Homo sapiens: one gene and its partners. The protein of the gene in region 4 interacts with the protein of the main gene of each other region in a biochemical or structural test. Each region holds a gene or a part of one and is shown on either strand. Other genes may lie near its edges.

What was found.
Region 1: the proteins of GPRC6A (region 4) and ARHGAP21 interact in a test that uses a peptide from one of them, tested with the Homo sapiens proteins (one large-scale study listed by IntAct).
Region 2: the proteins of GPRC6A (region 4) and FRMPD3 interact in a test that uses a peptide from one of them, tested with the Homo sapiens proteins (one large-scale study listed by IntAct).
Region 3: the proteins of GPRC6A (region 4) and PDZRN3 interact in a test that uses a peptide from one of them, tested with the Homo sapiens proteins (one large-scale study listed by IntAct).

What each region holds. Positions count from the first base shown.
Region 1 is NC_000010.11:24,594,888-24,598,387, forward strand, and holds part of ARHGAP21 (rho GTPase-activating protein 21), read right to left. Parts: intron 3,123-3,500; coding exon 3,058-3,122; intron 2,697-3,057; coding exon 2,560-2,696; intron 1,996-2,559; coding exon 1,853-1,995; intron 1,157-1,852; coding exon 1,001-1,156; intron 909-1,000; coding exon 830-908; intron 304-829; coding exon 230-303; intron 153-229; coding exon 63-152; intron 1-62. UniProt on the Homo sapiens protein: Functions as a GTPase-activating protein (GAP) for RHOA and CDC42. Downstream partner of ARF1 which may control Golgi apparatus structure and function. Also required for CTNNA1 recruitment to adherens junctions.
Region 2 is NC_000023.11:107,448,269-107,452,451, reverse strand, and holds the start of FRMPD3 (FERM and PDZ domain-containing protein 3), read right to left. Parts: upstream 2,801-4,183; 5' UTR 2,447-2,800; intron 1-2,446.
Region 3 is NC_000003.12:73,383,942-73,387,441, forward strand, and holds part of PDZRN3 (E3 ubiquitin-protein ligase PDZRN3), read right to left. Parts: intron 1,845-3,500; coding exon 1,728-1,844; intron 990-1,727; coding exon 1-989. UniProt on the Homo sapiens protein: E3 ubiquitin-protein ligase. Plays an important role in regulating the surface level of MUSK on myotubes. Mediates the ubiquitination of MUSK, promoting its endocytosis and lysosomal degradation. Might contribute to terminal myogenic differentiation.
Region 4 is NC_000006.12:116,819,084-116,822,583, forward strand, and holds part of GPRC6A (G-protein coupled receptor family C group 6 member A isoform 1 precursor), read right to left. Parts: intron 1-3,500. UniProt on the Homo sapiens protein: Receptor activated by multiple ligands, including osteocalcin (BGLAP), basic amino acids, and various cations. Activated by amino acids with a preference for basic amino acids such as L-Lys, L-Arg and L-ornithine but also by small and polar amino acids.

The DNA.
Region 1 (3,500 bases), on a different chromosome or scaffold from region 4:
GAAGCATATCTTTTAAACTAAAGCCACTAAAAGTACATTTCTTCAATAAGCATTTTACATACCTTATTTTTTTCTGAATTTTCTGCCACTGTCTTCAGATGAGCTGAAAGGAACTTAAGTGTTTCATAATGATGTTCAGGCAAATCGTGAATCTGAAACAGATTATTTTCACAATGGATTCAGAGGCTGAATTTTAGTTGTATCCCCCAAAATATAAAATAATACCTACTAGTCTTTTTAATGTTTTCAGACGATCTAGAGGATCTTCTTTACGATTGGCTTCAATAAAATCAGCATATTTATCTGACGACAAGAACAATAAAACAAATTTATCTTAAATTGCCTAGGTGAATTGTAATCTAGTTTCCCTTTAAGGATCAATTTTAAACCACAACATAGGAAAGAGTTCTAATAGTTTTGAAATGTAAATTTCTAAAATGTAAGTTCCCTGCAGGAACCATCCTATATTTACACAGCCTGTCCATTCCTCCCCCACCCTCCAACAACATCTAGTAAAGTGTCTTACATGGCACTTAAATACTTGGCTTGACTGAAAAAACATTTTTCTACTCATTGTACCTTATGATGTCAGAAGCCATTTGACTGGAAACAATAATATTAATTTGGCTGCAAACATGTATGAACAAGATAATACATATTTCACTGAACCTAAATAACTTTTATGTTTTTAATATATGAGGGAGAACTAAATAAAGCCTCCTGCTTCCTTTGACCAAGACATTTTGTCCTTGTTCAATTTAATATTCTATGGTTTTCCAATTGTAACTTGAACCATTTCATCTGGTATCTTTCACGGGAGTTAACTCACCATTTGTGAAGAGAGGCTCAGGGAGTTTTCTGAAGAAGGATTTTAGTAAACTGCTTATCACATTCAAATCTCGCCATTTCTAGGTGTACAAAATAGAAATATAGTATTTTCATATCCAGTTCCACCAAAGGGGGAAAAAAAAGGATCAGTTATTCAAATAAGCAAACTTACATCATCTTGTATATCAATATCAGCCATTCCCTTGTTGAGTTCTTCTTGCATACTTGAGATGGCTGCATTATTTCCAGGAACTCTATAAATACCTGTATATTCAAGACCTCTTTCTTCAACTAATTTGCAACATATGTCAACTATTAATGGAATATACTGCAAAACAAGAAATAAACATTTTATTTAATGCAGCACAAATGTTTAGTAGTTGTATATCACAGCTAAAATGCCCCTTTCATCCAAAAGGAAACATAAATTGCTGTTATGTAATATAAAGAATACAGACATTATAGATCTGGGAATAGATAAAACCTGCAAGAGATATTTGAGACAGTAAGAAGAGAACAAAGAGACTGAAAGAAAGAGAGGGACCCCCAGAGAGATAACATTCTAAAAAGGAAGTAACAACAGGTAAAGAGAATGTGGAAACCGTTCCGCTGAATAAAGAGTCAAGAAAAGAGGAGGAGAGAGTAATATCAATTCATGATACGAATCCTAGCATGGGTGTTTTAAATATATGCACATACATTTACATGTATTATACTTTCTTAATCAGGTCCTTGTTCTCATCCTTGTTTTAAAATGCTAAAAGCAGAAACACACGATTTGAAGACGAATTCTTACAGACCATTTCAGACAAATTCCTAATGGTTGAATAATTATTCAATTTCGGAGTCAATACATTAGAAAAAAAGCATTACAGGTCAGAAATACTTAGGGAAACTAAGGTCTGCTATGAAAAGGAAAACAGATTGACAGTCTCTGTTGTCTGAAAGGCTATATACTCAGATCCCATTATAATCAAAACTGAATTAATGACTTGAGGAAATCCGGTGGGCTGGTGTCTCCTACCCGATTAGTATGAGCTGGTGGGCAGTCATCTAGTCGGACGCCGAAAGTTCCTGTAGCAGTTGGCTTTTTCTCAAATGTCTTTCTCATGATACTTGGAATGCCTTTTCTCCATGTGCCTTTGTCTTTTGGGGGACTGGTATCATCTTTTGATTGCCAGTCAAAATAAAACAACATAATAAAATGGAAATGAGTGTCTAAATCATGACTTTAAAAACACTTTATCAATGTTTACATAAATCCAAGTCCTGTAATATAAATAATACATCCTATATTTAACAAAAATATGTTCTCTTCCATATAACTTTTACTTCATTCTTTTATAATGCGTGCTATAATTTTCTTTAAAACAGCAAAAAAAAAAACTACATAGAATCAGTGTGTCATCTTTATAGTGAGACTTCAACAAAGGGAAAAGTAATAGTTTTATTTCAAAATGATAGGACCTGAATCCTCGGAGTCATTTAAATTTGTAATGTCTCTGATTTAAGTATTGTTTGTATTTTCCCTCACTTTCGCTTTATAATGAAGCTGGTGTCTTGGGCCTCACAAAGGGAAAGGCCCAATGAGCCCAGACCAAGCCTACTATGAATTTTGAGCTAGTTGACATGGGGCCTGGTCAGTAGAAATGGTACAGAAAACATAAACGTACCTCAACGATGCCAATTTTAAATCATTATATTTATTTGTTAGAAAGCTAACATCAATACCTTTACTGAGAAGTTTCCTTTCCGACTCTTCCTTCGGAGAGTGTGGGCTTTGAGTCTTTGGCTCTGATTTAGCACCAAGCAAAGTTTGCCTGATGCTGAGACTCTGGCGAGGTGTTTTTGGCAACTGTTCTGCTTTGCTGTTGAAGGAAATGACATTTGTTAACAATTACAGTAATCCCCCTCTATCTATGGTTTCAGTTACCCGTGGTGAGCCATGGTCTGAAAATATTAACTGGAAAATTCTTGGAATAAACAATTCATAAGCTTTCAATTTTGTAGTCCTGCCCAGAATAAGAATCATCCTTTCATCCCGAGTAGCCACACTGTATACACTACCCGCCCATTACTATATGGGAAAAAATATAGCGTAGAGAGGATTTGGTACTATCTGCGGTTTCAAGCATCCACTGGGGGTCTTGGAATGTATCCTTGCAAATAAGGGGGATGACTGTACTGATTTTATATCCAAATTAACTGCAGGCAAGGTGGGATTCTCACCTCATCAGATTGTTGTATTCTTTTATTCTTCGACTAATTAGATCCCTGTTAGTGACTCCAGTGTCCTACAGAATAAAGTAAAATTAGAAAATCAATTCTAAACATAAATAAGTGATCCTTACTTTTTTGAGGCTTTCTATTGTACTGCTTTGCTTATTTAACACAAACACTACTATCATCTGTTCTCAGTGGAGCTGTTTCAAAGCTTCTATTCAACATCACTGTGTGAAAGATTTTCCAAGTGCCTCCCAACATTGCCAAAGGGTTTTGCTTCTTTTCTGTATCCATGCGATACCTAGGATAGTACCAGCAAGTAACATGTGTTCAATACTTATTGAATTGATCCGTCCATTTAAAATAAATGACTAGGAAGCAGCCAGTGTTTTCTCTAATACCAGAAAGAATGATCAGCATTTAAGAAATATACGTGTAAGTGATTTTTC
Region 2 (4,183 bases), on a different chromosome or scaffold from region 4:
AGGCGGTTGTGGTGTTGGGTGCCAGCGAGAGATAGGGGATATTCTCTCCACATGCAGCAATGAGTGTTTCTTTCCTGCTTATATCTTATTCCCTCCTTTCTCAGAATCTGGCAGTGGCTCCCAATTGCCTCTCAAGTCAATTGAAACCTTCTCTTTGTGGGCCTCAAAACCCTCCACAATTACATCTCACCTTCTGACACCCTCACTCCCACACACACATCACCCATAACTCTGGCCTAGGCACAGACAGTAGAGTAGACAGATGAGGTTGTCCACAAACTGCTCCTGCCTGAGTCCTGCCACAGGTGCCTGAAAGCCCCACCAACAGAGTCACTCCTCTGTGTCCTTTAAAAATGCAAATGTTACCTGTGAGGTGTAAGCAGTAAACCTCTATCAGCTATTAACACCTTGGCCTGGCAGGGATTCTGTCATCAAATTTGCCCGAGCAGTGAGCAAAGCCCCGCCTAAATAATCTAAGGGGGCGGGGGAGAGGACCCAGAGGAGCCCTGAGCAGCCGACGGGAGGGGCAGGAGCAGGGAAGGGGCTCTGACGTAGAAGCCATCGCCGTCACGATTTTACCACGGTCTACATTCTAACTCCGCATCTCTACTTAAAACAGTAAAACCCACTAGTCCTTGCTCCCCTCAACCTTGTTTCCCCCATCCACAATACATTATGCCTTATTTAACCTCAGGGGTGCCTTCATGACAAGCTGCTAAGGTTGAATTAGTCCTTTCACATGAAATACAAAAACAAACAAACAAAAAAACAAGCCATGAAATTGGGTAGACGCTGGCATGTTTGCTTGGGCACGGCCAAGTCTTGTTGAGGTCTCCCCGGGTAGAGCAAGATCTCTTTGCTCAGCGGAAACAGCAAAGGCTTCCCGAAAAGCCTCTCTTAGCTCCCAAGAAGCTGGCAGCTGGGTTCCCCCTGCTTCTCCTGCAGTGAGCTTCATGGGCAAGGAAGGCGAGGGAGGGGCAGGGCCTCCAAGCTGAGGGCCTCTGTGGCTGAACTGGCACACTATCCCGGGTCCTCTAGGCCCAGGTGGAGTTCGCCATTTACCCCGGTCTCCAGCTGGGAAAACTCACTTGGTGCTTCGCTCTGAGTCAGCATAGAATCCCCCACCCTCCACTTCGAGAAGGGCGCCCCCAAGGGAGCCTTGCGCTTATAGCAGTTCCTCCGAAGGCAGGAGTCCAGAGACTGCCCCGCCCTCCGTAAGAGCTGCAGGATGCTAAGACCACCCGGTGGACTCCAGGGTTTTGCACCTGGACCAAGATGCCAAGGGGAGGGGCAGGTCTAGCAGAATTCGGCGTTTGCTGTCATCTGGGGCTCTTTAGTTGCAGCTGCAAGGGTGGAGGTGCCACCTGCTTCTGGGGGAAGGTGTCAAACATTTGCCCCTGCAGTGGTTTCAGTGTGTGTGTATGGGGCTGTGGTGTGTGTGTGCAGGAAACCCAACAGCTCGAGCGTGGAGGGTATGACTACCAGAGTTGGGCACGCTTTTTGCCAGAATGGGGTTCTTAAGGGCTCTGGTGGAGGTGTCTACAGTAGCTGCGTGTGACGGGGGGTTGCTGGGTGTGTATTGGGGGGAAGCAGCAGGTACTGGATCTGCAGTAATGTGCAGTTGTCATGTAGTTTCTCAAGACCACTCTGAGAAAACACACACACACTCACATACACACACACACTCTCCAACCTCCAAAGCACTAGGCTGGGGAGTAGAGGAGTGTGTTTGTGTGTGCATGTTTTAGCAGCGCTAGGGGGAGGTGCATGTATCTGTATATGTGTTTGAGCTTTATTAGCATCTTGGTGGGAGGGGGCAAGTGTAGCTCGCGCTCTCTCTCTCTCTCTCTGTGTGTGTGTGTGTGTGTGTGTGTGTGTGTGTGTGTGTGGTCTTTGCATGGGGCTGACTGTGTGGCTGAGCGCCGGGTATGTTGTGCGGCTGTGTGTGCGTGTGTGTGCGCCTCCGTGTCCGCTTGTGAACATGGCCCCGGGAACCACGCACATGCTTCAGACAGCTGTTTCTGGCAGCCCCTGGGCTCGGGCTTCGCCGGGCACCCCGGCTAAGTGGCCACCTCCTAGCAGCCAGGCCCCGCGTCTCGCCAGCTCTCCCAACTGTGCCCACAGCCCAGGCGCGCACACAAAGGCTCCATAATGAACGCGCTGCACTCCCCTGCGCTCGACTCCTCACCCCGCACCCGCGGAGGCCAAACGAGCCCGCCAAGCCAGAGACTCGCCGGGGCAGTGGGCACGCAACGGGCCGTTACCCCGCCCGCCCAAACTCCGGGCGGCCAGACGTTCGGCGCCCCCCGCCCTGCCCCCGGCTCCCGGGGGCGCCCAAGCGCCAGTCGCCCCCCAGCCGGCCCGGGGCGGAACGCTCCCGCCGCGACCCACCCCCGGTTGGGCTGAGACAGCGGGCGCGCCCCCCTGAAGGCAGCGCGCCTCTTACCTTCCTCCCCCTCCTCTTCCTCCTCCTCTTCCTCCTCCTCCTCCTCCTCCTCCGCCTCCTCAGCGGCGCGGCAGCGGCGGCGCAGCGGCGGCGGCGGCGGCGGCGGCAGCGGGACTAGGGCACCCGTGCCCCCGAGCCCGGCATGGGCTTGGGGCTCAGTGGCGCCGGGCGGCGGGGCGGGCAGAGGTTGGCAGGGCGGCAGCAGCTGGCCCGGGACGCGGGGAGCTGGCGCGCAGGCGGCGGGCTGCGGGCAGGATGGCAGGAGCGCGCGCGGGCTCCTCGGGCGGGCTTCATGGCTGCGCCGCGGGCGGCACCATCGCCGTGGCTCGCTCGTCGCTCTCTCGCTCCAGGAGTGCGGCAGGCTGCGAGGTGACGGATGGCGGCGAGGCGGCCGGACGGCCGAGGAGGGGAGGGGAGAAGGGGCGGGGGGAGGGGGAGGGGGAGGAAAGAGGGGAGTGCAGAATGAGGGGCCTCTCCGGCGCCTCCCGACCCTCGAGTGCTGGCGTCGATTTCCCCGAATGGGAAAGCGGCTTAAAGGCGCAGTTCCTGGCTCGGGTCACTACTAAAAATAAGCAAAAAATTGACAATTGGGGAAAGAATCTCCCAAGAACAACCCAGCAACCCAGCCACCCAGCCTGGCGCTGCCTCACTTCTTGAATCTGACCGTTACGGCCGGACTCTGCCGGGAACTGCTGGCTGCCGAGAGGGCAAGCCAATTTCCAAAGTGAACCCGGGAAAGGGGGGCGGGGAGTGAACTGCGGAGAAGGGGCAGCAGGAACGCTTGCTTCGGAGACTCCGTTCCCTGGCCCCTGACCTTGCTTCTCGCCCCTTGTTTGCTCGCCTTCTGCTGGGGATGCCCTCCCTGCAGCTCCCCTCCTGGTCACCATCGCAAACATCCACACGCACCTTGAGTTTCGGCTCGGGCTCCTGCTCTCAGCGCCTCTCCCCAGCACTGGAGTGTGAGCGGCTTCGAGCCCAGGCCCAACGCCAGGAGCCCACCTCAGTAAGGGAGCGATCTGCCAGCTGGCAAAGGTCTGCTTAGAAAATGCGATTGGTTTGGTGAAAAGGGAAAAAGGTTAAGGTGTGTGTGCATGTGTGTTCACCAGCAGATGGAGGGAGGGTCCTGGCCACACACACACACCCGGAAGGAGAGCAGCTAGGCACACAGCACAGTGCCTGATGAATGATCTCAGGACGTTTTTTAGAGACATGCTGTGAATACTAAACATGCAGCAGCCGAGATTCAAGAGAAGCTCTTGGTCTCCCAGCGGGCTCCAGACCCCTTCAGAGGAGTTTTGAGGGCCAAGAAAAAAGGCCACTCTTCCTTCCCCAAAAAGGGCAGCCTCAGTGGGGACCCAGAGAGACTGGGAAGCTGGACAGTGGGTCTGGGTGGTGAAGTTAAGGCCAGGGAAGAGAGAAGCAGGAGGAAGCAGTGGAGTTGAGGAGCTCCTGGTGATGCCAAATACATGGTGAATTTCCGGGTGTCAGAAGCACCTCGGAGAGACAGTTAAACATTGGCACATTTGGGCCTTGTGAGTTCTAAGGTGAAAAGTCAGCCCTCCTCGATTTCCTCTGTGTTCCTGAACTCTAAAGGAGGCTGTTGGCACAAAGGGATCCATTCTAGTTGGAATATTTCCTCACTTTCGGTTCTTTTCAAGCACTTGGTTAAAGCTTCAGAAGAGGCCGGAGGGCTACTGAGGGGCAATTGTGGGACAAGGGCTGTTCTCCTAGGCTGCA
Region 3 (3,500 bases), on a different chromosome or scaffold from region 4:
GCCGGGATGTGCGCGTGCTTGTATGGGGAGTGGTGATAGGAGGGCAGGTAGGCGCTGCCCAGCTTCTGGCTGGGCGTGGGGCTCCGGCTCCCGTCGCTGGCTCTCCGCTCTTTGCTTTCCAGGGGCTGGTTGGGGTCCAGCTCCTTCAGGGACGGGCTATAGGTAGGGGTGCCCACTTCGGGATCTTCCGTGATGGAGAGCAGATTCTTGGAGGCTGGCCCGTAGGCTTCCGTGGTCCCCACAGCCCCTTCGCTGCTCGGGCAGCTGATGCCCTCCGCCGCTCTCCTCAAGGAGTTGTCGGGGGAGATCTCCAGGGTGAGCGGGGTGCTGCGGCAGCTCTCGCCTGTGTTGTAGGCGCTCGAGCTGTCCTTGTCGGATTTCTCCGGGAGCTCGGTGATATCTGAGAGCTCGTGTCTGCGCACGTCGATGCTGGTGTTGTAGTTGCGGAAGCCGCTGTTGTGCAGCATCCAGGACTCGCGGTACTGCTCCTTGAGCTGCTGCATCTTGTGGGCGCGCACGATGCTCAGGCACTCCAGCTCGATGCTGCGCAGCTCTTCGTTCAGCAGCTCCAGCTCCTTGTCCACGCTCTCAGGGTCACTCTTGCCGGCGTCCAGGGGGCCGCTAGGGTAGTACAGGCCGTAAGGGGTGGCGCTCTTCACCTGGCACTTGAGCTCCAGGAGCTCGCGGAAGCGCTCGCACTCGTCCACCGGGATCCCCAGGTAGTCGGCGTCCGTGCAGTCGGCCGAAATGAAAGACTCGTTGCTGAAGGGCAGGTCGCCGCTGCCCAAGGTGTCCTGGCTGCAGGTGAGCTTCCTCTGCCCCGCCAGCGGGTTGGAGGATGCGGTGGCGTCGTCGCCATTGTTCTCTTGCTCCGAGCTCTCGTCATTACGGGTGCTCTCGTCGGTCCGCCCCACACCGCTGTCCTTCTCGTGCTGGTTGGACAAGATGGTGGCTGTATCTGTGGTCCCACCGTCTTCGTCGTGCTTCTTCTGCATAAACACAAGAACAAAGGGTCACAGTGAGGGAGGCCTGCGCAGCAGGTACTCAGGTTTGACCTTTCCTTGCGGTTTCTGGATAGGGCAGGCTGTACATTTCTAAGGCCAAGGGACAGCATCTGACAGTAGGACCACGTCAATAGCGTGGGCCTTAGCTACACCTACCCGTATCTACCTGGGCAAGTCACTTATTCTTGTTCTTGTCCTCAGTTTTGTAAAATGAGGATAATAGTCACTTTATCTCAATGAATGATTCTCAATGATTCTGTTAAATGAATCAGTACACAGGTAGAAGGATGTATAAAGGTCCTTGTTCAACTCAATAAGGACTCAATAAGTGGCTCATTAAGACTCTGACAATGGTAGTAGCATAGCAGGGAGCTAGAGAGCTCCAAGCAGCTCCTGTTAAACAGAGGGGATTGCTTTACTTTGGAAAACATGGCTTTTTGCAATCTATGGTAATGCCAACGCATATGTTTTCCAAACAAATTATCAGAAGGTCAGCTTTGCTTTGGCAATGTTGCTTAGATTTAAAAGCTTAGCTAGGGACAGTACCAGCTTGCATTTCACTGGTCTGGTGCTCAAATAGAAAAGTACTTGAGGCTGTTTTCTTGCTGCCTTCCAGGTGGATGGACTTCTGATGGTCTTTAGCACCATAAAGGGAGATGGAGGAAGCAGATTTTCCTCCAGCTCAGCAGGGCAGAGTGTCAGGGACTGGTGCGTGGGCGTTACCTGCTGCAGCACGCTAGCTGTGAATTGCATGGCCTGGTGGTGCTGCTCCTCCAGCATGTCCATGTGCAGGTCATCCAGAAAGTCGTTCCTGTCATCATCCATCCAGCCCTCATCCAGCTGCAGGCAAGAGCAGCCAACACATGCCTTAGAAGTTTCCTTTCATGTTCATTTATGTTTTTTTAAAAATGACATTACCTTGGGGGAAAATATTTCTAGGGCTTCCTCCAAGAGTCATCAAAATGCAGTCTGCCCAATGATTTGCTGTTAAGTCAGGAAACTATCCAACCCTTACATTAAACAGACCTCCAACCCTACACTACATCTGGGGAAGTCTTTAATATCCATGATTTTTTTTTTTCAGGGTGAAACTCTTTCATCCATCTCAGCTACCTTCAGTGCAGTAGGACACCTGTGTAGGAGGGTCAGGTAGATTTAGCTGGTCCACCTGCTTGCTGGACCAGACACGAGTTTAACAGGTCCCATAGAAAAATGATTTTCAGTGTGAAAAGAGTTCTTTCTGATACAGTAACTAGCTGTTTGGCTTGGGCAAGATATCACTTTTTTTTTTTTTTTTTTTGAGACAGAATCTCACTCTGTCTCCCAGGCTGGAGTGCAGTGGCACGATCTAGGTTCACTGCAACCTCTGCCTCCCGAGTAGCTGGGATTACAGGCAATGCGCCACTATGCCCAGCTAATTTTGGTATTTTTAGTAGAGATTGGGTTTCACCATGTTGGCCAGGCTGGCCTCATCCTGACCTCAAGTGAACCTCCTGCCTCAGCCTCCCAACATGCTGGGATTATAGGCGTGAGCCACTGAGCCTGGCTGGATATCACTTTTAAGAGGCCTTTATCTGCCTTGCCCAAAAAAGAGTGAACTATTCAGAAGTTGGCACTCTATAGCCCATGGGCTGAATCCAGCCTGGTATTTTTATAAATAATAATAAAAAAAGTTGAATGAGAACACAGCCATGCTCATTCGCTGACATAATTGTCTATGGCTGCTTTTGCACTAGAGTGACAGTCTAGCAGTCATGGCAGAGATGGTATGGCCACCCAAGTCAAACATTTACTATCTGGCCCTTTAAGAAAAAGTCTGTGACTGTGGGTGAGATGATTGCTGAAGTTCCCTTTGAGCTCATGAGGCTCCCATCTGTGGAGAATCAGATGCCCCGTATGCCACTGTCTGTCTCTCGGCTTTTTCAATCGGGTTTCATACTGATATGGTTTGGCTGTCCCCACCCAAATCTCACCTTGAATTGTAGCTCCCATAAGTCCTACGTGTTGTGCGAGGGACCTCGTGGGAGATAATTGAATCATGGGGGCAGTTTTCCCCATACTGTTCTCATGGTAGTGAATAAGTCTCATGAGATCTGATAGTTTTATAAGGGGAAACCCCGTTTGCTTGGTTCTCATCTCTCTTCCCTGCTGCCACGTAAGACGTGCCTTTTGCCTTCCACCATGATTGTGAGGCCTCCCCAGCCATGTGGAACTGTGAGTCCATGAAACCTCTTTTTTCTTTATAAATTACCCAGTCTCGAGTATGTCTTTATCAGCAGCATGAAAACGGACTAATACACATACCTAAAGAGATCTACTACTGGATTGCCCTAGATGTGTTGCTGGAGCCATTCTAAGTGGATCAAGAGTGCCACCTGGGTGAGTTCATGATTCCTCCTGTGGAAGGAGTTATTACAACACAGAGGTTTCTGAATCAGATTACTTGGGCCTGAACCCCTCCCTGCTTTATCACCCTCCTTCTGGGCCTTTCCTGGG
Region 4 (3,500 bases):
ACCAACAAAGATCAAAAGAGACAAAGAAGGCCATTACATAATGGTAAAGGGATCCATTCAACAAGAAGAGCTAACTATCCTAAATATATATGCACCCAACACAGGAGCACCCAGATTCATAAAGCAAGTCCTGAGTGACCTACAAAGAGACTTAGACTCCCACACATTAATAATGGGAGACTTTAACACCCCACTGTCAACATTAGACAGATCAACGAGACAGAAAGTCAACAAGGATACCCAGGAATTGAACTCAGCTCTGCACCAAGTGGACCTAATAGACATCTACAGAACTCTCCACCCCAAATCAACAGAATATACATTTTTTTCAGCACCACACCACACCTATTCCAAAATTGACCACATACTTGGAAGTAAAGCTCTCCTCAGCAAATGTAAAAGAAGAGAGATTATAACAAACTATCTCTCAGACCACAGTGCAATCAAACTAGAACTCAGGATTAAGAATCTCACTCAAAACCGCTCAAATACATGGAAACTGAACAACCTGCTCCTGAATGACTACTGGGTACATAATGAAATGAAGGCAGAAATAAAGATGTTCTTTGAAACCAACAAGAACAAAGACACAACATACCAGAGTCTCTGGGACACATTCAAAGCAGTGTGTAGAGGGAAATTTATAGCACTAAATGCCCACAAGAGAAAGCAGGAAAGATCCAAAATTGACACCCTAACATCACAATTAAAAGAACTAGAAAAGCAAGAGCAAACACATTCAATAGCTAGCAGAAGGCAAGAAATAACTAAAATCAGAGCAGAACTGAAGGAAATAGAGACACAAAAAACCCTTCAAAAAATTAATGAATCCAGGAGCTGGTTTTTTGAAAGGATCAACAAAATTGATAGACCGCTAGCAAGACTAATAAAGAAAAAAAGAGAGAAGAATCAAATAGATGCAATAAAAAATGATAAAAGGGATATCACCACCGATCCCACAGAAATACAAACTACCATCAGAGAATACTACAAACACCTCATGCAAATAAACTAGAAAATCTAGAAGAAATGGATAAATTCCTTGACACATACACTCTCCCAAGACTAAACCAGGAAGAAGTTGAATCTCTGAATAGACCAATAACAGGATCTGAAATTGTGGCAATAATCAATAGTTTACCAACCAAAAAGAGTCCAGGACCAGATGGATTCACAGCTGAATTCTAGCAGAGGTAAAAGGAGGAACTGGTACCATTCCTTCTGAAACTATTCCGATCAATAGAAAAAGAGGGAATCCTCCCTAACTCATTTTATGAGGCCAGCATCATTCTGATACCAAAGCTGGGCAGAGACACAACCAAAAAAGAGAATTTTAGACCAATATCCTTGATGAACATGGATGCAAAAATCCTCAATAAAATACTGGCAAAACGAATCCAGCAGCACATCAAAAAGCTTATCCACCATGATCAAGTGGGCTTCATCCCTGGGATGCAAGGCTGGTTCAATATATGCAAATCAATAAATGTAATCCAGCATATAAACAGAGCCAAAGACAAAAACCACATGATTATCTCAATAGATGCAGAAAAAGCCTTTGACAAAATTCAACAACCCTTCATGCTAAAAACTCTCAATAAATTAGGTATTGATGTGACATATTTCAAAATAATAAGAGCTATCTATGACAAACCCACAGCCAATATCATACTGAATGGGCAAAAACTGGAAGCATTCCCTTTGAAAACTGGCACAAGACAGGGATGCCCTCTCTCACCACTCCTATTCAACGTAGTGTTGGAAGTTCTGGCCAGGGCAATTAGGCAGGAGAAGGAAATAAAGGGTATTCAATTAGGAAAAGAGGAAATCAAATTGTCCCTGTTTGCAGATGACATGATTGTATATCTAGAAAACCCCATTGTCTAAGCCCAAAATCTCCTTAAGCTGATAAGCAACTTCAGCAAAGTCTCAGGATACAAAATCAATGTACAAAAATCACAAGCATTCTTATACACCAACAACAGACAAACAGAGAGCCAAATCATGAGTGAACTCCCATTCACAATTGCTTCAAAGAGAATAAAATACCTAGGAATCCAACTTCCAAGGGATGTGAAGGACCTCTTCAAGGAGAACTACAAACCACTGCTCAAGGAAATAAAAGAGGATACAAACAAATGGAAGAACATTCCATGCTCATGGGTAAGAAGAATCAATATTGTGAAAATGGCCATACTGCCCAAGGTAATTTACAGATTCAATGCCATCCCCATCAAGCTACCAATGCCTTTCTTCACAGAATTGCAAAAAACTACTTTAAAGTTCATATGGAACCAAAAAAGAGCCCGCATCGCCAAGTCAATCCTAAGCCAAAAGAACAAAGCTGGAGGCATCACGCTACCTGACTTCAAACTATACTACAAGGCGACAGTAACCAAAACAGCATGGTACCGGTACCAAAACAGAGATATAGATCAATGGAACAGAACAGAGCCCTCAGAAATAACGTCACATATCTACAACTATCTGATCTTTGACAAACCTGAGAAAAACAAGCAATGGGGAAAGGATTCCCTATTTAATAAATGGTGCTGGGAAAACTGGCTAGCCATATGTAGAAAGCTGAAACTGGATCCCTTCCTTACACCTTAGACAAAAATCAATTCAACATGGATTAAAGACTTAAACGTTAGACCTAAAACCATAAAAACCCTAGAAGAAAACCTAGGCATTACCATTCAGGACATAGGCATGGGCAAGGACTTCATGTCTAAAACACCAAAAGCAATGGCAACAAAAGCCAAAATTGACAAATGGGATCTAATTAAAGTAAAGAGCTTCTGCACAGCAAAAGAAACTACCATCAGAGTGAACAGGCAACCTACAAAATGGGAGAAAATTTTCACAACCTACTCATCTGACAAAGGTCTAATATCCAGAATCTACAATGAACTCAAACAAATTTACAAGAAAAAAACGAACAACCCCATCAAAAAGTGGGTGAAGGACATGAACAGACACTTCTCAAAAGAAGACATTTATGCAGCCAAAACACACATGAAAAAATGCTCATCATCACTGGCCATCAGAGAAATGCAAATCAAAACCACAATGAGATACCATCTCACACCAGTTAGAATGGCAATCATTAAAAAGTCAGGAAACAACAGGTGCTGGAGAGGATGTGGAGAAATAGGAACACTTTTACACTGTTGGTGGGACTGTAAACTAGTTCAACCATTGTGGAAGTCAGTGTGGCGATTCCTCAGGGATCTAGAACTAGAAATACCATTTGACCCAGCCATCCCATTACTGGGTATATACCCAAAGGATTATAAATCATGCTGCTATAAAGACACATGCACACGTATGTTTATTGCGGCATTATTCACAATAGCAAAGACTTGGAACCAAGCCAAATGTCCAACAATGATAGACTGGATTAAGAAAATGTGGCACATATACACCATGGAATACTATGCAGCCATAAAAAATGATGAGTTCATGTCCTTTGTAGGGACATGGATGAAATTGGAAAT